Linked DNA regions of Homo sapiens. The protein of the gene in region 1 purifies or fractionates together with the protein of each later gene. This does not show direct contact. Each region holds a gene or a part of one and is shown on either strand. Other genes may lie near its edges. The genes, in order: CAPSL and DLGAP5.

Evidence for each region.
Region 2: the proteins of CAPSL (region 1) and DLGAP5 purify together in Homo sapiens (co-immunoprecipitation; 2 studies listed by BioGRID and IntAct, with this or other methods). This does not show direct contact.

Annotation. Positions count from the first base shown.
Region 1 is NC_000005.10:35,904,964-35,917,084, forward strand, and holds part of CAPSL (calcyphosin-like protein), read right to left. Parts: intron 5,581-12,121; coding exon 5,403-5,580; intron 5,113-5,402; coding exon 4,903-5,112; intron 1-4,902.
Region 2 is NC_000014.9:55,171,365-55,183,485, forward strand, and holds part of DLGAP5 (disks large-associated protein 5), read right to left. Parts: intron 11,069-12,121; coding exon 11,006-11,068; intron 9,934-11,005; coding exon 9,849-9,933; intron 9,415-9,848; coding exon 9,292-9,414; intron 8,336-9,291; coding exon 8,265-8,335; intron 5,973-8,264; coding exon 5,698-5,972; intron 4,655-5,697; coding exon 4,530-4,654; intron 4,109-4,529; coding exon 3,982-4,108; intron 1-3,981. UniProt on the Homo sapiens protein: Potential cell cycle regulator that may play a role in carcinogenesis of cancer cells. Mitotic phosphoprotein regulated by the ubiquitin-proteasome pathway.

The DNA.
Region 1 (12,121 bases):
AAGTGCTCTGCAACTGTAGTTATTTCTGTCTTTCTGTGACACGTCAGAAACAACATGTCATGTCCTTGTGTCAGGGTAAGTGATGTTTTCCCTTTCCAAAAATGGAGTTCTCTCCTGTGGGTGAAGAAACAGATTTCTAGTTAAACGCTCCCGGGTTGCATGCTTTTCTAACACATAAATAACTCATTCAAGGCCCAGGGTGAATAAAAAGCTTACCCCTGCTTCATGCCTCCCACCCATCCTGGCTTCTCTCCACTCTACACCCATGACCATCTCTTTGAAATATTGACTAATGTGTTTATCTGTGTGGGGATTTTATATTACTTTCCTTTGGGGAAGGAGAAAAGACAGTTATTAGTCTTATTTTTAACAGGTCTAGATAATATGTACACTCTAATTTAATCATGTTGGTTGACATGATCGGTTGGGGACATACCTATGCCTTCCAAGAATCATAAGAGATGACTGACCCACTGGTCCTATTGAAATTATAAGTGACCAGAAAAGAAAAGTCACTGGATCCACAGTTGTCTTTCATACCACCCCTTCCCACTAAAAACATAAGGAAGGGCAGTAGAAAGAAAGGCATTTGAACTCAGCTCATAGTTGAACTGTAAATACACATCTACAATACATGCATAGAGCCTCTGTCAAAATTAGGATACCATTAGCATCCCCCTTTGTTGAACTTCTTTATTCCTCTCCTCCTTTGGATTCCTCAGCCTCTGCTTTTCAATTCCCTCATTAAGGGATTACATTAAGTTTCACACATCATTATTGCCCTCTTTCTATCTTTCTCATGTTGTGTGAGGTTCCAGGGAAATGTTTATCAGTGTGGGTCCACACCACCTGCATCAGGACAACCTGGGGTGTCTGTCATAAGCCTAGGCCCACAGGCTGTACCCCACACCTGCTAAATCAGAATCTCTGAAGCAGGTGGTTGTGGAATTTACTTCTTAAAAATCTAAACATCCCAGTTAATTGTTGTGCACACTACAGTAATTTAACTGGGAATATCAAAGATAATTAAGATAAAGTCTCAGTCCTCAAAAAGTTGCAGGCTGGTGAAATACTCCAACAAAGTAAGTGGATCATTTTACAGCAAATAGCAAGTAAACTAAAAGAGTTACCCACGAGACCCTGAGCCATTTTGACGGTGCACTTTACCATGACAGTTTGAGGAACATTTTTTACAGCTAATTATTTTTTAATTAAAAATTATCAAACTCCCGATATTTTTAGTTTGTTATTGTTTCTATTGTCTGTTTGTTGGCCAGGGATGACAGCCATTGAATGAGACTCCCTCCACATCCACTGTAATAATCCTATCCCTAGCTTTTCTCTCCCACAGAAGTTGAAAAACTCAAAACTCACTTTCCCAGACTCCTCTGCAGCTTCAGCTTGGGATGGCCAAGTAATAGAGTTCTCACCAATAAGATACAAAGGAAATTTGACATGAATTTCTAGGGAAGCCTTTGCTTTCCTGATGCAGGCTCCAGCCCTTTCTCGTTCCCTCCTTCTCCCTCCTTTGTCCTGCTGCCTGAAACTCAGATGTGCTGGCTGAAGTTAGGCAACCATCTTGAGATCATGAAGGAAAGGCCAGGAAAATCACAAAGACTTCAGCTCTGCTCTCTTTAAGCCACTCAAGTGAGAACATCAAGTAGAATAAAAAATAAAACCTAATTTGTGTATTCCAGTGTATAATAAGATTTCCTATTTCTTGCAATTGAAAGCAAACCCTAACTGAAACACCAATACATGATTGAGACTGGTATCGTCACCCATCCTTCCATCCCAAACTCCCCCAGTGGGATGGGGTGACCTGAGTTGAGTTGGCTCTGTTGGAGAATGGAGAAGGAATCCAAGATGGGCAAAAGATAAAGGAAGCATTAAACCTCACTTGGAAGTCAGATGACGTCAAGCCAGAGGTCAGAGCTAATGTATTTGATCATTTCAGAAAAAGCCATCAGTTACTCTTAGCTAGGTGTTTGCTTGTTTTCTGAGACTCAACTTATATTGGGAATGGCCTGAATCGCAAATTCTCTGATCTCCTGTAAATTTGCCCTCATCATAGTAAATTGTTGGTTAGCAATAATCACTATCCTTATTCATTTTATTTGACATTAGAAAAAAATGAGAGACTGGGCACTCCTACTTTTAGCAGGCCTCTTGACTAGGCTACCTTTATGTGACAAGATATATATCATATATACAAGGAAAGGTCCCAGATGGGGGTAATGGAAGTCACAATACAAGCCCTTTTTCTCAGCTCCAAATTCATCAGAAAAATCCTAAAACAAATCTAGGTTACTATTAATACATACACTCAGTAATATACCTAACATATTTTTAATTATTTAAAAATTTTTTATGAGATGGATGAGGCAATAGACTGATATTCCCTGAAGGTCTAAAGTCCTAAGAGGCTTTTTAAAAATATAGTGATGATAAAGTCATATATACACATGAAGAATTCAAAACTTAGATATTAAAGAATAAGAAGTAAATGTCTCACCAAATTGTGGTGGGGTTTAGTGATAGAAAAGGGGTAAGGAAAGTCTGTGTCACAGGTTATCTGATTGCTTCACACCTCCATCCAAATGGCTTCCGGCTGCTATGGGAGTCCAGTGAGGTATTAGTGCAAGATTTATGACATCAAATTCCGTGACTGCTGAAACTCCAGCAACCTTTATGGGTATTTGAGAGTTTAACCTAGATTATCAAGTTTGAACATTACCTTTAGCTAGGAGCTATGCTAAATTTTTTGCATTATTTTAAATTTTGTCTTATATGGGATGTTTTTAACCATAAATGAGCACACTGGCTTCAAGTACAGCTATGCTTCACCACAAGCAATCTTAATATGCAAAATAGTGCAATTTGCAAGAGGTAAATTTTAGAAGCTAATTATTCTTCTCATAAAAGAATTTACCATGGAGTTCCTCTACAACAACAATTTCTTGTGCATTTAAAATACAATTCAGTGTGCGAAAGTTTGAATTACACATCACTTTTCAGAAACACTTTTATTATGTCTATTAAATGAGATATCCCTGGTAAGCCCTTAGCAAATGCCCAGTTGATATGTGCTCAAAAAGTGTTGCCCAGATTCATTATTATGCTAAATGGGGTCATGTGTATATTATATTTAGTAATTTTAAAACAGTTATTTCTGAATCTTTTAGAGCTAAGGATCACAAATACACGTGAGTGTAAGAGTCATCTGGTACACATTAAAATGTAAAGCCTTGGACTCCATCCTCCAAAAAATCAGATTCTGTGGTTCTGCAGTGCAGCTAGGAATCTACATTACTAATAAATCCTCCCTGATGATGATTATGAACAGCCAGAGTTGGGTATCAATACAGGGTCTGTAACATGCAGATGACATCAAGTGCTATAACTGCTAAAAACCTCAATAACCTTTATGAGCTTTTGAGAGCTTAATGTGGCTTCTTAAGATAAATATCAAAAGGGGTGATGTGCAGACTTGAATCAGCCGAATCACAACTGGCTATTTTGACTTTTGTTAGAGAAAAGGGTAGCTGAGGTTTCCCCTGGCAATGAGGAGGAACCACCTGCAGAGAGGAAGCAGACACACTCTAGGATCCACAAAGGGGTGGGCTAATTTGGGGAAATGGCAGTTGGCTATTTTTCCACTGACATCTCAGTGATCAAGGCCAGCAATACTGGAAGAAAACATGTAGTTTTTATTTCTGTCCCTAAGATTTTGGCTGCCCTATTGAATTTTGGCCCTTTTGTAAACCTGCCTCCACAATCCTCAGCCTGAAATAGAGGGTATGTCTCCATCCCTGAAAGGGAAATGTCAGCAGGAAGAACAGAAAGGTCACCTTCCTATCCCCCACCCCTTGCTAATGAGACTCATCATGAAGTTTCATTTAAAAAGTTGGAGCACATTCCCTTCAGAAGAGGAAGGTTTATTTCTTCTTCCCTTAACCACTCTCTTCTTGTCCACTGGGCCACTTATCTTTTCCTGTGCTGTAAAGGGCTTAAGAGACAATGAACCCTGGGGCTGTGCTGCTGCTGACTGTTACTCAAGGGACAATCCCCTTTCCTTATCACCAAAACCCTTAGATCATCTAAGAACAGAACTGGCTCAGGGTTTTTTTTTTTTTTCTAAAAAGTCAATTTAGGGCTGTTGATAAAGGACAGATGACATTTTCATCTCAGCCTAGACACAGTCATGGAGCTATATAATTCCTTACCCTACCAAGCTATGCATTTGTAACTTGAAGATAAAAGTTAATGGAGATGGGCGGTTGATTTTGTTTTCAAATTCAGTGCAGTTTAGAAATGTAAGTTAATCTCAAAGCACACTAAAGAATAAATCAGAGTAAATTCTGTTATTTGACATTCCCTTTACCAAAAACTACCTTTAAATGGCATTTCCACATAGCAAAGTGTGAAGATGAATGAGGATGAGTGTGAAGGCACTAAAACATCCTGAAAGGCCTTGTAAATCTGTTCTCCAAAATTAAATTATGATCTCATTTCAAAGTTAAATATATTTTATTATAATCAGTTCACTGGAGTGCAACTAGCTGAGTATGGTAAATATAGTAACCATAAAATGGCATGTTTAATCAGAACATCACATTCCCCAGATGACAGGTCATCACTTATGTGGATCCCCTACCAATATATTTCAATATATGTCTATGAGTGTGTGCGTGCACAAACATACATTAGGTTTCAACTAAAGTAACATGAAGGTTTCCCCTGGCAATGGAGAAGTTTCTAGATTGTTCCTAGGGAAATAGTTTACTTCTATTTACAACAAATATGGTATCAATGTGTTAACATTTTTAAGAGTTTGGACCTATTTCCCATTTACAATTTCGAATTGAAGAAATTTCCCCTAGATTAGGCTCTTTTACTTACCAATCCATCTTTGTCATAGGGTGAATCAAAGTTATCCAGAAATTTCCTAAATACTTGTTCCTCACTCCATTCCCCATTCTGGTACTTTGGGTGGTGTTTTGCATTATATACTTCACGAAGGTCTTCGATTGTTATAACACCATCTCCAGTCTTGTCTAACTTTCTAAAAGCTTGCATGATTACCTCTTTTCTGGCTCTGGACATTGGAGGCTACAAAAATAGAAGAATACATACAGAGACATACATAAGCAAATGAGCTTTTTTGGTATCCTATGTGATAAAATATCTCATTCCCCTCAACGATGTGAAATAATATTTGTGTGCTATTATGTAATAGACACTACAATTGCTCCAAAAATTCCTAAGTCTGTTCACAGTTTTCTGCTTATCCCCCTCCCCACAGTGTACTAACAACTTGTAAAAACAAAACCTCAAGGTAGCCAACCCAAACCACGTGAAAGCCAAACTCAGCAGATACACTGATTAATGGGGCCACTTACTCTTAATGTGAGAAGAAATTCATTGAAGTCTATTGTTCCATTTCCATCTTTATCAAACCTCCGGAAAAGTTCTTCCACCTCTTCTTTTTCCATGACCACAGCATAATCATTTAACCCTTTCATAAATTCTTTAAAATCAAGGGTTCGATTATTATCGTCATCCATAATTCTAAACACTCTGAAGAAAATACACACAAAAATTCAGAAGAAATGTACAAATAACAGGTGTAAGTGTAAAGATTAAAAAAAAATCCACACTCAAGGTTTCGTCAAATTAAAATACAAAAGTCTTAAATTCTTCTCTGCACCCTCCTTTCCAAAACTGGAGAGCCTCTTCCCACCACACACACACAAACACACACACAAAGTATAATTCTAATTACATGACATTCTGCAAAAGACAAAACTGTGGAGACAGTAAAAAGATGAAAGGTAAAGGAAAGAGTTGAATTGGTGAAACATGGGATTTTTAGGTCAAAGAAACTATCCTTTATAATACTATGATGGTGGATACATGACATTATGCATTTGCTAAAACCCATAGCACTTTACAGAGCAAGGTGTAAACCTTAATGCATATCAATTTTAAAAAAATGATTTAGGAAGTCAGAAAATCACAGTGATGTGGCTATGTTAGGGATATAGGAGCCAACTTAAATAGCTCTCAAGATCAAGGCTGGAACAATTAAACCAATAAAACTATGCTGGATTATAACCCAAAATATAAAAAAGAAATCCCTACATCCATACTGGTTAAATAAATGATAGAGTAAATAAAGATGAAGAAAATGACAAATTTCTCTTGCAGAAAAATTCCAAATAAGTTATGGATATATTCTCCTCTCAAGGAGGGAACATATACTCCCCACTCTCTAAGTGTGGGCTCTACAAAGAGGTTTCCTTCCAAAAAGTACGATATGGAAAAGGGAAAAGGGAAGCAACTTTACAATGGAGAAGTCTGACAAATACTACCTCAATCAGGTGATCAGTGTCAACATCAACAGTAATAAATCATGTTAATCATACATATCCTTGGTATAATGTGATAAAAATGGTGCTTTATGTCTGTGGTCCCTAAAAATAATAAGCCCAGTTTAGTCATGAAGAAAAAAATCAGAGAAATTCCAATAGGTGGGCATCCTACAAAATACTTGACCTCTCACATTCATCAAAAACCAGGAAAGTCTGAGAAACTGTCATAACCAACAGGATCCTAAGGAAACATTACAAGTAAATGTAAAGCAGAGTTCTGGATGAGATCTTGAAACAGAAAAGGACACTAGGTAAAAACTACGGAAGTATGAATAAATTATGGGCCTTAGTTAATAATCATGTGCTGGCATTGGTTTTTAAAGTAGTCTATTTAAAAAATAAGGGGGTGGAGCAAGATGGCCAAATAGGAACAGCTCCAGTCTACAGCTCCCAGCGTGAGCGATGCAGAAGACAGGTGATTTCTGCATTTCCAACTAAGGTACCAGGTTCATCTTACTGGGGAGTGTCGGACAGTGGGTGCAGCACACCAAGCATGAGCTGAAGCAGGGCAAGGCATCGCCTCACCCAGGAAGCGCAAGGGGTCAGGGAATTCCCTTTCCTAGTCAAAGAAAGGGGTGACAGACGGCACCTGGAAAATCGGGTCAGTCCCACCCTAATACTATGCTTTTCCAACAGTCTTAGCAAACGGCGCACCAGGAGATTATATCCTGCACCTGGCTCGGAGGATCCGACACCCACCGGGCCTCACTCATTGCCAGCACAGCAGTCTGAGACCAAACTGCAAAGCAGCAGCGAGGCTGGGGGAGGGATGCCCACCATTGCTGAGGCTTGAGACGGTAAACAAAGCAGCCAGGAAGCTCAAACTGGGTGGAGCTCACTGCAGCTCAAGGAGGCCTGCCTGCCTCTGTAGACTCCACCTCTGGGGGCAGGGCATAGCCAAACAAAAGGCAGCAGAAACCTCTGCAGATTTAAATGTCCCTGTCTGACAACTTTGAAGAGAGTAATGGTTCTCCCAGCATGCAGCTTGAGATCTGATAATGGACAGACTGCCTCCTCAAGTGGGTCCCTGACCCCCGAGTAGCCTAACTGGGAGGCACCCCCCAGTAGGGGCAGACTGACACCTCACACGGCCAGGTACTCCTCTGAGACAAAACTTCCAGAGGAACAATCAGGCAGCAACATTTGCTGTTCACCAATATCTGCTGTTCTGCAGCCTCCACTGCTGATACCCAGGCAAACAGGGTCTGGAGTGGACCTCCAGCAAACTCCAACAGACCTGCAGCTGAGGTTCCTGACTGTTAGAAGGAAAACTAACAAACAGATAGGACATCCACACCAAAACCTCATCTGTATGTCACCATCATCAAAGACCAAAGGTAGATAAAACCACAAAGATGGGGAAAAAACAGAGCAGAAAAACTGGAAACTCTAAAAAGCAGAGTGCCTCTCCTCCTCCAAAGGAGCACAGCTCCTCACCAGCAATGGAACAAAGCTGGATGGAGATGACTTTAACAAGTTGACAGAAGAAGACTGCAGATGATCAAACTACTTGAGCTAAAGGAGGAAGTTTGCACCCATGGCAAAGAAGTTAAAAACCTTGAAAAAAAAATTAGATGAACGTCTAACTAGAAAACCACTGCAGAGAAGTCCTTAAAGGACCTGACGGAGCTGAAAACCATGACAAGAGAACTACGTGATGAATGCACAAGCCTCAGTAGCCAATTCGATCAACTGGAAGAAAGGGTATCAGTGATGGAAGATCAAATGAATGAAATGAAGTGAGAAGAGAAGTTTAGAGATAAAAGAACAAAAAGAAATGAACAACGCCTCCAAGAAATATGGGACTATGTGAAAAGACCAAATCTATGTCTGATTGGTGTACCTGAAAGTGATGGGGAGAAAGGAACCAAGTTGGAAAACACTCAGCAGGATATTTTCCAGGAGAACTTCCCCAATCTAGCAAGGCAGGCCAACATTCAAATTCAGGAAATACAGAGAATGCCACAAAGATAGTCCTCGAGAAGAGCAACTCCAAGACACATAATTGTCAGATTCACCAAAGTGGAAATAAGGAAAAAATGTTAAGGGCAGCCACAGAGAAAGGTCAGGTTACCCACAAAGGGAAGCCCATCAGACTAACAGCGGATCTCTCAGCAGAAACTCTACAAGCCAGAAGAGAGTGGGGGCCAATATTCAACATTCTAAAAGAAAAGAATTTTCAACACAGAATTTCGTATCCAGCCAAACTAAGCTTCATAAGTGAAGGAGAAATAAAAATCCTTTACAGACAAGCAAATGCTGAGAGATTTTGTCACCACCAGGCCTGCCCTAAAAGAGCTCCTGAAGGAAGCACTAAATGTGGAAAGGAACAACCGGTACCAGCCACTGCAAAAACATGCCTAATTGTAAAGACCATCGATGCTATGAAGAAACGGCATAAACTAATGAGCAAAATAACCAGCTAACATCATAATGACAGGATCAAATTCAAAGATAACAATATTAACCTGAAATGTAAATGGGCTAAATGCTCCAGTTAAAAGACACAGACTGGGAAATTGGATAAACAGTCAAGACCCATCAGTGTGCTGTATTCAGGAAACCCATCTCAAATGCAGAGACACACACAGGCTCACAATAAAGGGATGGAGGAAGATCTACCAAGCAAATGGAAAACAAAAAAAGGCAGGGGTTGCAATCCTAGTCTCTGATAAAACAGACTTTAAAACAACAAAGATAAAAAGAGACAAAGAAGGCCATTACATAATGGTAAAGGGATCAATTCAACAAGAAGAGCTAACTATCCTAAATATATATGCACCCAATACAAGAGCACGCAGATTCATAAAGCAAGTCCTTAGAAACCTACAAAGAGACTTAGACTCCCACACAATAATAATGGGAGACTTTACCACCCCACTGTCAACATTAGACAGATCAACGAGACAGAAAGTTAACAAAGATATCCAGGAATTGAACTAAGTTCTGCACCAAGCGGACCTAATAGACATCTACAGAACTCTCCACCCCAAATCAACAGAATATACATTCTTTTCAGCACCACACCACACCTATTCCAAAATTGACCACATAATTGGAAGTAAAACACTCCTCAGCAAATGTAAAAGAACAGAAATTATAACAAACTGTCTCTCAGACCACAGTGCAATCAAACTAGAACTCAGGATTAAGAAACTCACTCAAAACCTCTCAACTACATGGAAACTGAACAACCTGCTCCTGAATGACTACTGGGTACATAACGAAATGAAGGCAGAAATAAAGATGTTCTTTGAAACCAACGAGAACAAAGACACAACATACCAGAATCTCTGGGACACATTCAAAGCAGTGTGTAGAGGGAAATTTATAGCACTAAATGTCCACAAGAGAAAGCAGGAAAGATCTAAAATTGACACCCTAATGTCACAATTAAAAGAACTAGAGAAGCAAGAGCAAACATATTCAAAAGCTAGCAGAAGGCAAGAAATAACTAAGATCAGAGCAGAACTCAAGGAAATAGAGACACAAAAAACTCTTCAAAAAATCATTAAATCCAGGAGCTGGTTATTTGAAAAGATCAACAAAATTGATAGAACTCTAGCAAGACTAATAAAGAAGAAAAGAGAGAAGAATCAAATAGACACAATAAAAAATGATAAAGGGGATATCACCACCGATCCCACAGAAATACAAACTACCATCAGAGAATACTATAAACACTTCTATGCAAATAAACTAGAAAATCTAGAAGAAATGGATAAATTCCTCAACACACACACCCTCCCAAGACTAAACTAGGAAGAAGTTGAATCTCTGAATAGACCAATAACAGACCCTGAAATTGAGGCAATAATTAATAGCTTACCAACCAAAAACAGTCCAGGACCAGAAGGATTCACAGCCAAATTCTACCAGAGGTACAAGGAGGAACTGGTACCATTCCTTCTGAAACTATTCCAGTCAATAGAAAAAGAGGCAATCCTCCCTAATTTATTTTAGGAGGCCAGCATCATCCTGATACCACAGCCGGACAGAGACACAACCAAAAAAGAGAATTTTAGACCAATATCCCTGGTGAACATCAATGCAAAAATCCTCAATAAAATACTGGCAAACCAAATCCAGCAGTACATCAAGAAGCTTATCCACCATGATCAAGTGGGCTTCATCCCTGGGATGCAAGGCTGGTTCAACATACGCAAATCAATAAATGTAATCCAGCATATAAACAGAACCAACGACAAAAACCACATGATTATCTCAATAGATGCAGAAAAGGCCTTTGACAAAATTCAACAACCCTTCATGCTAAAAACTCTCAACAAATTAGGTATTGATGGGACGTTATCTCAAAATAATAAGAGCTATCTATGACAAACCCACAGCCAGTATCACACTGAATCGGCAAAAAACTGGAAGCATTCCATTTGAAAACTGGCACAAGACAGGGATGCCCTCTCTCACCACTCCTATTCAACATAGTGTTGGAAGTTGTGGCCAGAGCAATCAGACAGGAGCAGGAAACAAATGGTATTCAATTAGGAAAAGAGGAAGTCAAATTGTCCCTGTTTGCAGATGACATGATTGTATATCTAGAAAACCCCATCGTCTCAGCCCAAAATCTTCTTAAGCTGATAAGCAACTTCAGCAAAGTCTCAGGATACAAAATCAATGTGCAAAAATCGCAAGCATTCTTAAACACAAATAACAGACAAACAGAGAGGCAAATCATGAGTGAACTCCCATTCACAATTGCTTCAAAGAGAATAAAATACCTAGGAATCCAACTTACAAGGGATGTGAAGGACCTCTTCAAGGAGAACTACAAACCACTGCTCAAGGAAATAAAAGAGGATACAAACAAATGGAAGAACATTCCATGCTCATGGGTAGGAAGAATCAATATCTTGAAAATGGCCATACTGCCCAAGGTAATTTATAGATTCAATGCCATCCCCATCAAGCTACCAACGACTTTCTTCACAGAATTGGAAAAAACTACTTTAAAGTTCATATGGAACCAAAAAAAGAGCCCACATTGCCAAGACAATCCTAAGACAAAAGAAAAAGCTGGAGGCATAACGCTACCTGACTTCAAACTATACTACAAGGCTACAGTAACCAAAACAGCATGGTACTGGTACCAAAACAGAGATATAGACCAATGGAACAGAACAGAGCCCTCAGAAATAATGCCACATATCTACAACTATCTGATCTTTGACAAACCTGACAAAAACAAGTAATGGGGAAAGGATTGCCTATTTAATAAATGGTGCTGGGAAAACTGGCTTAGCCATATGTAGAAAGCTGAAACTGGATCCCTTCCTTACACCTTACACAAAAATTAATTCAAGATGGATTAAAGACTTACATGTTAGACCTAAAACCATAAAAACCGTAGAAGAAAACCTAGGCAATACCATTCAGGACATAGGCATGGGCAAGGACTTCATGTCTAAAACACCAAAAGCAATGGCGACAAAAGCCAAAATGGACAAATGGCATCTAATTAAACTAAAGAGCTTCTGCACAGCCAAAGTAACTACCATCAGAGTGAAGAGGCAACCTACAGAAGGGGAGAAAATTTTTGCAACCTACTCATCTGACAAAGGGCTAATATCCAGAATCTACAATGAACTCAAACAAATTTACAAGAAAAAAACACACAACCCCATCAAAAAGTGGGCAAAGGATATGAACAGGCACTTCTCAAAAGAAGA
Region 2 (12,121 bases), on another chromosome or scaffold:
TACGATGTATAGGATATATACCCACAACAAGTATACAATCTAAAATGTCAATAATGCTAAGATTGAGAAACCCAGGCCTAAAAGAAGTTTAATTTGTGTCTATGGAAAAAGTATCCTAGCATGTAGAGAAACTGGAACCCTTGTATGCTGTTGATGGGAATGTAAAACGGCAAAGCCACTGTAGAAAACAGTATGGCAGCTCCTCAAAAAATTAAAAATAGACTTACCACACAACCCAGCAATTCTACTTCTGGGTATACACCCAAGATAATTTAGAGCAGGGTCTCAAAGAGGTATTTGTACACCCATGTTCATAGCTGTTCACAACAGTTAAAACATGGAAGCAACCCAAGTGTCCACTGACAGACAAAGGGATAAGCAAAATGTGGTATATACATACAATGAAATATTATTCGGCCTTAAAAAGGAAAGTCTGACACATGCTACAATGAATGAACCTTGAGGACATTATGCTAAGTGAAATAAGCCAGTAAAACAAGACAAATACTACATAATTCTACTTAAATAAGATACTTAGCAGAGTCAAAATCAGAGACAGAAAGTAGAATGGTATTTACCAGGGGCTAGGAGGGAATGGCTGAGGAATGGGGAGTTATTTTTTAGTAGGTACAGAGTTTCAGGCACCTACCACCACGCCCAGATAATTTTTGTATTTTTAGTAGAGATGGGGTTTCACCAAGTTGGCCAGGCTACTAGTCCTGAACTCCTGACCTCAGGTGATCTGCAAGCCTCAGCCTCCCAAAGTGCTGGGATTACAGGTGGGAGCCACCGAACCCGGCAGGTTTTGTTTCTTTAAAAAAAAAAAAAAAAATTTAGGGCCAGACTCAGTGGCTCATGCCTGTAATTCCAGCCAGCACTTTGTGAGGCTGAGGCAGGCAGATCACTTGAGCCTAGGAGTTCCAGACCAGCCTGGGAAACATGGCGAAAACCAATCTCTACTTAAAAAAAAAAATACAAAAAAAAAAAAAAGTATTTAAAAGATAAATGAAAATCACCTAACATCAGTTTCCCTCCACTGTATTAAGGTTATAAATATTTTAGTTTTGGTTTTAAATGTCTAGATATTAGTACAAAATTCTTTATTTTTATTTTTTTTAAATACAAAATTCTTACGCTAGAAACAGACATAGTCCCAGCTCCTCAGGAGGCTGAGGTGGGAGGTCGGGAAGTCAAGGCTGCAGTGAGCCAAGAGCGAGACACTGCACTCCAGCCTGGGTGACAGAGTGAGACCCTGTCTCAAAAAACAGAAACAAAAACAAAAAATTTGAGTTGTTCATATTCAATGACACAACATGACGATTAATAAGGAGGCAGAGGGTCGGGCACGGTGGCTCTCGCCTGTAATACCAGCACTTTGGGAGGCTGAGGCAAGCGGATCACAAGGTCAGGAGTTCGAGACCAGCTTGACCAACATGGTGAAACCCCGTCTCTACTAAAAATATAAACATTAGCTGGGTGTGGTGGCACACGCCTGTAATCCTGGCTACTCAGGAGGCTGAGGCCTGAGAATTGCTTGAACCTGGGAGGCAGAGGTTGCAAAGAGCCAAGATCGCGCCATTGCACTCCGGCCTGGGCAACAGAGCGAGACTCCGTCTCAAAAAAAAAAAAAAAAAAAAAAAGAAGAGATAGCAGAAATGGTTTAGTTCTGACATTATCTAGTTAGGTAGATTGCTTAATATTTCAATAACTCAGTGGAATGACACAATGGATTAGCTACCTCTAAAATCCCTTATAATTCTAAAACCCAGTGCTCTAAAAAAGAAATTAAGCTGGACATAGTGGCTCATGCCTGTAATCCTAACAGTATGGGAGGCTGAGGCAAAAGGATCGCTTGAGCCTGTGAGTTCGAGACCAGCTTGGGCAATATCATAAGACCCCCGTCTCTACAAAAAAAAAAAAAAACAAAAAAAAAAACACACACACACCAAAATTAGCCACCCACTGGCAGGAGGATGGCTTGAGCTCAGGACAGAGAGGCTGCGGTGAGCTGAGATCACATCACTGTACTCCAGCCTGGGCAACAGAGTGCAACCATTTCAAAACAAAAGAAAAGAAAGAAATGAAGTCACTCTCAAAAAGTATATTTATAATAGAACAAATGAATAGTAAAACTATAATGAGATACTTACTTCTCATCTATTTGATTTGCAAACAGAATAGTGTGTATTGTATGATATTGTCTCTCTCTATAGATATATGTTGTCTCTCTCTCTCTCTCTATATATATATATACATGTTGCAGGAAGTCAGGGACCCCAAACGGAGGGACTGGCTGAAGCCATGGCAGAAGAACGTGGATTATGAAGATTTCATGGACATTTATTAGTTCCCCAAATTAATACTTTTGTAATATCTTATGCCTGTCTTTACTGCAATCTCTAAATATAAATTGTAAAGATTTCATGGACACTTATCACTTCCCCAGTCAATACCCTTGTGATTTCCTATGCCTGTCTTTACTTACTTTAATCTCTTAATCCTGTCAGCTGAGGAGGATGTATGTCACCTCAGGACCCTGTAATAACTGTATTAACTGCACAAATTGTACAGCATGTGTGTTTGAGCAATATGAAATGTGGGCACCTTGAAAAAACAGGATAACAGCGATTGTTCAGGGAATAAGAGAGATAACCTTAAACTCTGGCCGCCGGTGAGCCGGGCGGAACAGAGCCATATTTCTCTTCTTTCAAAAGCAAATGGGAGAAATATCACTGAATTCTTTTTCTCAGCAAGGAACATCCCTGAGAAAGAGAATGCGCACCTGGGGGTGGGTCTCTTAACTGGCCCCCTGGGCGTGGCCGTCTCTTACTGTCGAAACTGCAGGGGTGAAATAGACCCCAGTCTCCCATAGCGCTCCCAGGCTTATTAGGAAGAGGAAATTCCCGCCTAATAAATTTTGGTCAGACTGGTTGATCTCAAAACCCTGTCTCCTGATAAGATGTTATCAATGACAATGGTGCCCGAAACTTCATTTAGCAATTTTAATTTCGCCCTGGTCCCGTGATCTCACCCTGCCTCCACTTGCCTTGTGATATTCTATTACCTTGTAAAGTACTTGATGTCTGTGACCCACACCTATTCGCACACTCCCTCCCCTTTTGAAAATCCCTAATAAAAACTTGCTGGTTTTTGCAGCTTGTGGGGCATCACGGAACCTACCGACATGTGATGTCTCCCCCGGATGCCCAGCTTTAAAATTTCTTTTTGTACTCTGTCCCTTTACTTCTCAAGCTGGCCAATGCTTAAGGAAAACAGAAAAGAACCTACGTGAATATCAGGGCAGATTCCCCGATATATATATGTATATAGATATATATATATTTTGAGATGGAGTCTCACTCTGTTGCCAGGCTGGAGTGCAGTGGTGCAATCTTGGCTAACTGCAACCTCCGCCTCCCAGGTTCAAGCAATTCTCCTGCCTTAGCCTCATGAGTAGCTGGGACTACAGGCGTGCACCACCACGCCCGGATAATTTTTACAGTTTTAGTAGAGATGGGGTTTCACCATGTTAGACAGGATGGTCTCGATTTCTTGACCTTGTGATCCACCCACCTCGGCCTCCCAAAGTGCTGGGATTACAGGCGTGAGCCACCGCGCCCAGCCTATTGTCCATATTTTTTAAAAAAGAAAAAAATGTACATGTTATATTTGTCTACATATGCATGAACTATCCATGGAAGTATTCACAAGAAATGAGTAACACTTGCCTTCATGAAAGGTTCAAACTATGTGGTTGGGTCACAGTGCTGAGAAGAAGTCTTCTCACTTGTACCTTTTCCTACCCTTTGAATTAGGAACCACATGAATGTACTAGTTATCAAAAAAATAATTAAAATTTAAACGTGAAAATCACCTAACACCAGTTTTCCCCCACTATATTAAGGTTAAAAATTTTTAGTTTTGGTTTTAAATGTCTAGATATTAATACAAAATTCTTACACTAGAAACACACAGACATACCTGAAATATGGCACACCATGGTGGGGCTGAGCAATTCGACCTTCATTTCTTTCAAGTGATGGGACTTCTTTTATTGGAAGGCCATTTAAATTTTTAGTAGTAGCTTCATTTTTATTTAAAACATGTTCTATAAATTAAAGAAAATCTTACATATAAATTTCAAAGCAACAATTCCTAAAATGACAGCCCCTAAAAAGACATTTTAAAAATCCTTTTCAATGTTTAATTTTAAAATTTTATTTCTGCCTCAATCACTTCACATTTCCTCTAAAGTAGCTCTCAATATTTTTTCTTTAAATTTACATTTATTTCCCCTCTTCTGTCTGTATTCTTCATTCCAATATTCTCTTCAGATATCTTTACCCATGCTTTCCCGTCTTTTCTGACCCTGAGTTCACATCCCCAAATGATATGGTGAAAAAGAGCTCCAAACAAATCTGACAAGTAATAATCCAGAAAAGTAAAAATGTAATTACTATACCTGAAAGCAAAATATTTTTTGTATTAACATTATTCTAAAAAATGAATAAATTAATTAAATACTATACCTTCATGCCAAACAGTTAGAGGACCCAAAGGACATGGCAATTTATTTGAATCTTGCTGTATTGTCTTGGTAGAGTAAGTTTTACATTTTTGTGCCAAAATTTCTTTTGTTGCTTGAGACTCATCACTAAAAACAATAGCAAAAATATACTTCATGAAACATGAACTCCATATATCTAATATAAAGGGTTTCAAAATTGTGTCACTTGTAGATCTGGGCTAAAATAGAAATGTTTCTATTTTTTTAAAATGTGTATTCTGGAGGGGAGAAAATGTAAACACCTATAGTGTGAATGTCCATTTTTACTAATTAATTGTAATCAGATTCAAAGATTTTGAAGATTTCTTAATGGAACATAAACACTTAACAGTCTTAGATGCTGCTGAGCAGTTTTTAGTATATTTGCTGCCAGCCAGTCTTTGCAAAATGATCTTGCCTTTTCTTTTAAAGGTTCCAACTGATTTTTCCCTTGTTTTGCAAATTAATCATTTTTGTCTTCAGGGCCAGTTTTTCTAAATACTAAGCCAGAAGAAAATGAGGAAAAAGTCGTATCTGAGCTAAAGCAGTATAGCAATTTTCTTCTTTTGAAAAATGTATGTGTTATAATTAAGTCATTTATTAAAAACAAAAAACCCAAATTGTATAGTGAAAATAACAATGCATAGGAAATATAAAAACTGTCAATTACATTATTGTACCTTCTGAAGAATTTTTTTTAAAGAAAAAAATTGCATGATTCCTAATTAACACAGTTCACTAATAATAACTTTTTAAGAGCATAGACCAAATATAAGAAAGACATTTGGCCGGGCGCGGTGGCTCACGCCTGTAATCCCAGCACTTTGGGAGGCCGAGGCGGGCGGATCACGAGGTCAGGAGATCGAGACCATCCTGGCTAACATGGTGAAACCCCGTCTCTACTAAAGATACAAAAAATTAGCCGGGCGTGGTGACGGGCGCCTGTAGTCCCAGCTACTTGAGAGGCTGAGGCAGAAGAATGGCGTGAACCCGGGTGGCGGAGCTTACAGTGAGGGGAGATCACGCCACTGCACTCCAGCCTGGGCGACAGAGCGAACTCCGTCTGAAAAAAAAAAAAAAAAAAAAAAAAAAAAGAAAGGCATTTATTACCCATCTTAGCAAGAGACTTATTATTAAGATCATATTCTTACACTTCTGTTTTTAAAGGAGTCCAGGTGTAACTGGGTGTCAAAAAAGCATTGGCACTTCTGGGAGTCATAGGTGTTACTTGATAGGTCTTCAGACCATCCAGTGGCTGAAACATAAAATCCTTAGGTGCAAAGGAATTCTTCCCTTTTATTTTTGCAGTATTTATCTCAGGTAAGTTTTCCATTTTTGATAAGACTCCATCTGGATTCATTCCACTTGTTGCATTAGTTTGTGAATTCAAAGTATTTTCTTCACTATCGACTTTACAAGAAATACCCTAGGATGTGAGTTAACAAAGTAGAGTAAGATTTCTCTCTTCTGAGGATATATTCAACCAATTTTTATAGGTCTGAAAATATGACAACAGAAATATATGTTCTATGTACATAATTTGAGAGACAAAAACAGATACAATTAAGTGTATACATGGAATCAGAAGACCAGTTACGCTAAATCCATTGCTATTACCCGGGAATAGAATCTTTTTTTTTTTTTTGATACGGAGTAGCCCTCCGTCGCCCAGGCTGGAGTGCAGTCGCGCGATCTCGGCTCCCTGCAAGCTCCGCCTCCCGGGTTCACGCCATTCTCCTGCCTCAGCCTCCCAAGTAGCTGGGACTACAGACGCCCGCCACCACGCCCGGCTAATTTTTTGTATTTTTAGTGGAGACGGGGTTTCGCTGTGTTAGCCAGGATGGTCTCAATCTCCTGACCTCGTCATCCGCCCGCCTAGGCCTCCCAAAGTGCTGGGATTACAGGCGGGAGCCACCGCACCCACCCCGAACCAATTCTTATTTAAAGACTAACTAATACCTTTTGGGTATTACAACAAATTAAAAGATAATGGAAAATTAATATGGAAAAACTTATTCAACAAATACGTATCTTTTTACTTAAATTATGTTGATAATTACGGCCAGGCACGGTGGCTCATGCCTGTAATCCCAGCACTTTGGGAGGCTGAGGCGGGCGGATCACAAGGTCGGGAGATCGAGACCATCCTGGCTAACACAGCAAAACCCCGTCTTTGCTAAAAATACAAAAAATTATTGGGGCGTGGTGGCAGGCGCCTATAGTCCCAGCTACTTGGGAGGCTGAGGCAGGAGAATGGTGAGAAACCGGGAGGTGGAGCTTGCAGTGAGCCGAGATCGTGTCACTGCACTTCAGCCTGGGCGACAGAGCGAGACTCTGTCTCAAAAAAAAAATTATGTTGATAATTACAATGGTTTAAAATCAGAAATCTAACATTATGGAATGACTATCATTAAGGACCAAATTCTTAAGTTAAATAACCTTAGATTATAAATAACCTTAACACAAGAGCAATACTTTCAATGTGACACAAAAGATTAACCATATAAAATACAAAGCATATTTACTATTTCAAGTCAATTTGTTACTTGGTATTTAAATAATTTCTAGAGGTTTCCAGGTTTCTGATTTTTAATAAGATATGAACTCAAACCCAGGTATTTCAACCTGGACAAGAGTTTAAGTGGTAACACTGTTGAAGCCAGCATGGCAGTCAAAGCAAAAACTAGTGATAATCCTTAAGGGTTAATCTTAAGGGGGGACCTATAAGGTCCAGCTGCTTTATCTGTGAAGATTCACTGTGTGTTTCCTTTCTTGATCTGTGTTTGATTTTTTACTAAGAATCTAGCCAGGTTACTTAATCTTTGGTACTTTTTTTAAATTAAGAAATTATACTGGCCAGGCGTGGTGGCTCACGCCTGTAATCCCAGCACTTTGGGAGGCCGAAGTAGGTGGATCACCTGAGGTCGGGAGTTCAAGACCAGCCTGGCCAACATGGTGAAACCTCGTCTCTACTAAAAATACAAAAATCAGATGGGCGTGGTGGTGCACGTCTGTAATCCCAACTACTCGGGAGGCTGAGGCAGGAGAATCACTTGAACCCGGGGAGCGGAAGGTGCAGTGAGCCAAGATCGCGCCATTGCACTCGAGCCTGGGCGACAGAGTGAGACTCTGTCTCAAAAAATAAAATAAAAGAAAATAAACTATATCATAGATTATAGGCCAAGGGGTTGGGTCCTCAAATGGGGCATCTTTTTTGAAGACCTTATTAGAAACCATGCTAGATGCAGGCAGAAATTTTAGTTTATTTAATTCTTACAACTACTCTATGCAGGTATTCCATGTTAGGAATAAGAAAAGAAGCTCATAAACTACATAACTTGCCCAGGGTTATGCAACTAATTGGAAGCAGAGAGAGTATTCAAACCCAGGCCTAAATGAATCCAAAGTCAATGCATTTCACCCCACTTCACCCTATGTCTTGGCTAATTCCCACATACAGGTTTCTCTCAGCTGTGTTTTTATTATTTTTCTCCATCTTCTAACAAAATTATGCTTTCTCTACCTATAAAGCTCTGAAAATAAGATACCTGAAAAATAACAAGAGTAAATCCTCTTGATGCTTTCTTATGGTTCAGGAAGTTTTAACACACATGTAGGTTAACCTTTTGAAGCAGTTCTTTATGTTTAATTTCAACTTTATGAAAGTAGCAATGAGATTTTCAAAGCATCTAGAATTAAAAAGATGTTTATTCTCTACCTTGTCGGGTTTTGTTTCTACATTTTTGGCAGGTCTTCCTTTACTTGGCACCTTTCCTTCTGGTTCGTTTTCTAAAACAACAATAAAATATTTATTTTACTAGATAGAAATGCTACATGAAAATACTAGGTAACTTGGGAAAGGAAAAGAAGCAACAGTAGGAATATATGTCTTGAAGGATTTTTTTATTAAAAGCCATATTATAAAAAGGGTTATGGAATTTCCTGCCAAATACAAACCATCTCTTTTCAAAACCAGAGTGTTTTACCCTTTTCATCTGAATACCAAATACAGATTGAGTATCCCTTATCCAAAATGCTTGGGACCAGAGATATTTTAGATTCCAGATTTTGGAATATTTACATTATACTTACAGGTTCAGCATACTTGATACAAATATCTAAAATCTGAAATGCTCCAAGAGCATTTCCTTTGAGGATGACCTTTGAACTTCATGTCAATGCTCAGAATTTTGGATGTTTTGATTAGGGTTGCTCAGCCTGTACATATTTATTACAGACAATTAGAAAAATAACAGAAAACTACAAAGAACAATAATGACAAATCACCCAGGATTCCATTACTCAGCTGTCACTTCAGGGTATGGTTTTCCAGTCCTATGTCCACATATTCCCATAATGCTTTTTAGAACTGCGATCCTACTGTTCAGAGTTTGACCTGCTTTTCTTTGCCCACTTAATATATCATGAACCATGTCATTAAGTGTTCTTTAATAATATTATTCTTAATGGCTACGTTGTATTGCACCAAATAAATGAACTGTGATTTACTCGGACCATTAATTTTTCACTTTGAAACACTGCTTATACTAATTAAGGTCTTCAATGATTGGGCACCCATTGTGTGCTAACCAGATGTCAGGGCACAGAATCTATTTTCAGGTATTAGAATTTCCTGTTTCCTTCTCTCCTACTCAAAGAAGTACTTGTTGATTTTTGAAACGGAACACAAAAACCTCAAGGACCAAACATTCTAGTTCAGTCACTGATCAAGGAATAGTTCTCACCATTAGCAGCTCTTGTGACTGGCTTTCTTGCTGTGGTAGATGAGACTGTTCTGGGAACCTGCTTTGCTGCTTGAGTAGCTGATCGAGTCATTCTCAACGACGTGGGCATTACAGGCTGCACAACTGTGGGAAAAAAAAATAACTACATCAAATGTCCCTTGTAGTTATGAAATTATTGCTGTGAAGCCAGGCATGGTAGTGCAATGCCTGTAGTCCCAGCTACTTGGGAGGCAGGAGGATTACTTCAGCCCAGGAGTTCGAAACCAGCCTAGGCAACATAGTGAGACCCCGTCTCTACAAAAAATATAAAAATCAGCTGGGCATGGTGGCAAGTCTGTAGTTGCAGCTACTCAGGAGGCTGAGGTGGGAGGATCACTTGAGCCCAGGAGGTGGAGGCTCCAGTGAGCTATGATTGTGCCACTGCACTCCAACCTGGGCAACAGAGCAAGACTCTGTCACAAACAAACGAACAAATTCCAGTTGACCTTCAAGACACTTAAAAAAAATTATGGCTGTGGTAGCCTCAGAGGATTTATAGTAATTGCTAATATTCCTACCTTTTTTCTCTTTGTCTGACACTTTCTTTTCAGAAGTTTGTCTTGGACCAGGTCGGATTGCTCGAACATCACTCTCGTTATCAATCTATTTAAGAGATTAGGTGCTATGTGATTTAATTGCATAATGAATCAGACCATCATATTTTTAATCTGTAAATTGATTCCTCATATGAAATCTGATCATCGTAAATGACCCAACAACAACAACAAAAAACTACCCCAAATAAAATGAGATAAAGAAAAGCTTTCCATTAAGCTTCCAAAAAAGCTTACATCCTTTTTCACAATCACAGAATTTGGAAAATGCTAATAACCCAAGCTATTAAAAACAGCTCACTATAACTTGCCTTCTGAAGGTCCTTAAACACTCCTAGACATACTTTCACTTCAAGACCTTTTAATTTTGCCTAGAAAATACTTCTCCTGGATAAAAAGCGCTTTCCCATGGTTCTCTTCTCCACTTCCATAATGACTTCACTCAAAAGGCTTTCATCTCAGGGAGGCCTTCCTTAACTGCCCAATCAAAATTCTACCCCATACCTATTTCTAGTACACCCCATCTCCCCTTTTTAAAATCTCTTCCATAATACTTATCATCTTCTGGCATATTATGTATTTTTTTAAATGCCTTACATGTAAGTTCCACAAAGAGAATTTAGTTTATTATATCCAAAAGCCTACAACACCAGGAACATCATAGCAATGCAAAATATATATGCATACGTGGAACTTAGCTTCCTCACCTGATAAAGAGGCATATTATTTCCCTTCTTGCCCACTTCACTTTGTTTTAGTAACCCTCCTGATATCTCTATTACAGTATTTTGAAGACCCGTAAGTTTATAACACCTACCCTGTGTGCTTTCCTCCCCATATGCATTTCATGCAGGTAACTTGGAATGCATAATAGGAGCCCACTAAACAAAACAAGAGTGTGACACAAAGACAGTTTGCCATGGATCTCATACGGAATGTTGGAGCAAATATTTTAAGTGAAATTGCTCTACATCACCATACTAAAAACAGTGACTTTGGTACCTGTTAACTCTAGTAAATTAATCATTATGTTTGAATCTGATACTAGATTTAAAATGAATTTACTTACTAAAAAAGTGCAATTTATCATTTTAGTAACAATTATCTACTATCAACTATACCTTAGTCTGCTCCATTTGGTCTTTGGCCTTTGACCTTGTAATCCGTACAGAAGATGGAATAGCCTTAGAACAGTCAAAAGAAGATGAACTTAAAATATGAACTGGTAAAGGTTTACTTCCATATCTTATTACAAAATAAAGTTCCCATTTTAAAGTTAAATTTTATCCTTAATCTCTTATAGCAAAAAGATACTTAAATTCCTTTTTCTGGTTCTAGCTTGATTTAAATTAAGTTAGTAACTTCAAAAATTACTCACATTTCTCAGTGAGAAAGAAATTTCAAACCGTATTTTCCAGGTATTGGAATCATCATTAATATGAGCTTCTATCCTCTCTTAGTTCTCCTGCCTCTCTGACCAGTCCTCAGCCTGGTACCTGGCTTCTGCCTACCTAAAAGTGCTCTCTAGAGCCCACTTTTTCATAATTTTATATATCCTTATTGGAATGGTCTCATTTAGTCCTACAGCTTAAACACTCATCCATATTCCCAATATTATATCCTAAATCGACATCTTAGCACCAATTTCCATCCTTCTTTCCAAATTTTTACTAATATCTAGGTGGCCCACACAAGTTTAAGATTTTTAAAAAGGTTATTAACATGCACCCACTTAAGCTTGTTCCTTATCTTCCTTATCTCTTTTAGCAGCAGAGCTTCTCTCTGCTTTTTCAATTTCCTTTACCCCTCACCATCTACTTGGCCACCAGTCCTGTCAAATGCCTTTATTTAGATGTCTTACACCTATTTTTTCCTTTTAAAACCCACTGCCCCTTTCCATCTATTCTATTACAATAGTCTCACAATTGGTCTCCCTATCTATAAATGCTTCCCTTTCCAGACTAAAATCTTTAGGGCTATGGTATTTTCCTGAATTATTAATTTGACAACGGCACTACCCTTATTTATAAACTTCTCCTGATTCTGCAAAACCTACAGGATAAACACCAAATCCTTTGCATAACATTGTTCAGCCTGATTCTACCAATTTTCCTAGTTTTATCCTATCTCAACTTACCTACAGCTATCTTAAGAGACCTGATTTTCATTCTTCTGAGCTACTATTATGTCATTCCCACCTTCTACCAACCAGTTAATAATGAGACTAAGGGAAAGGG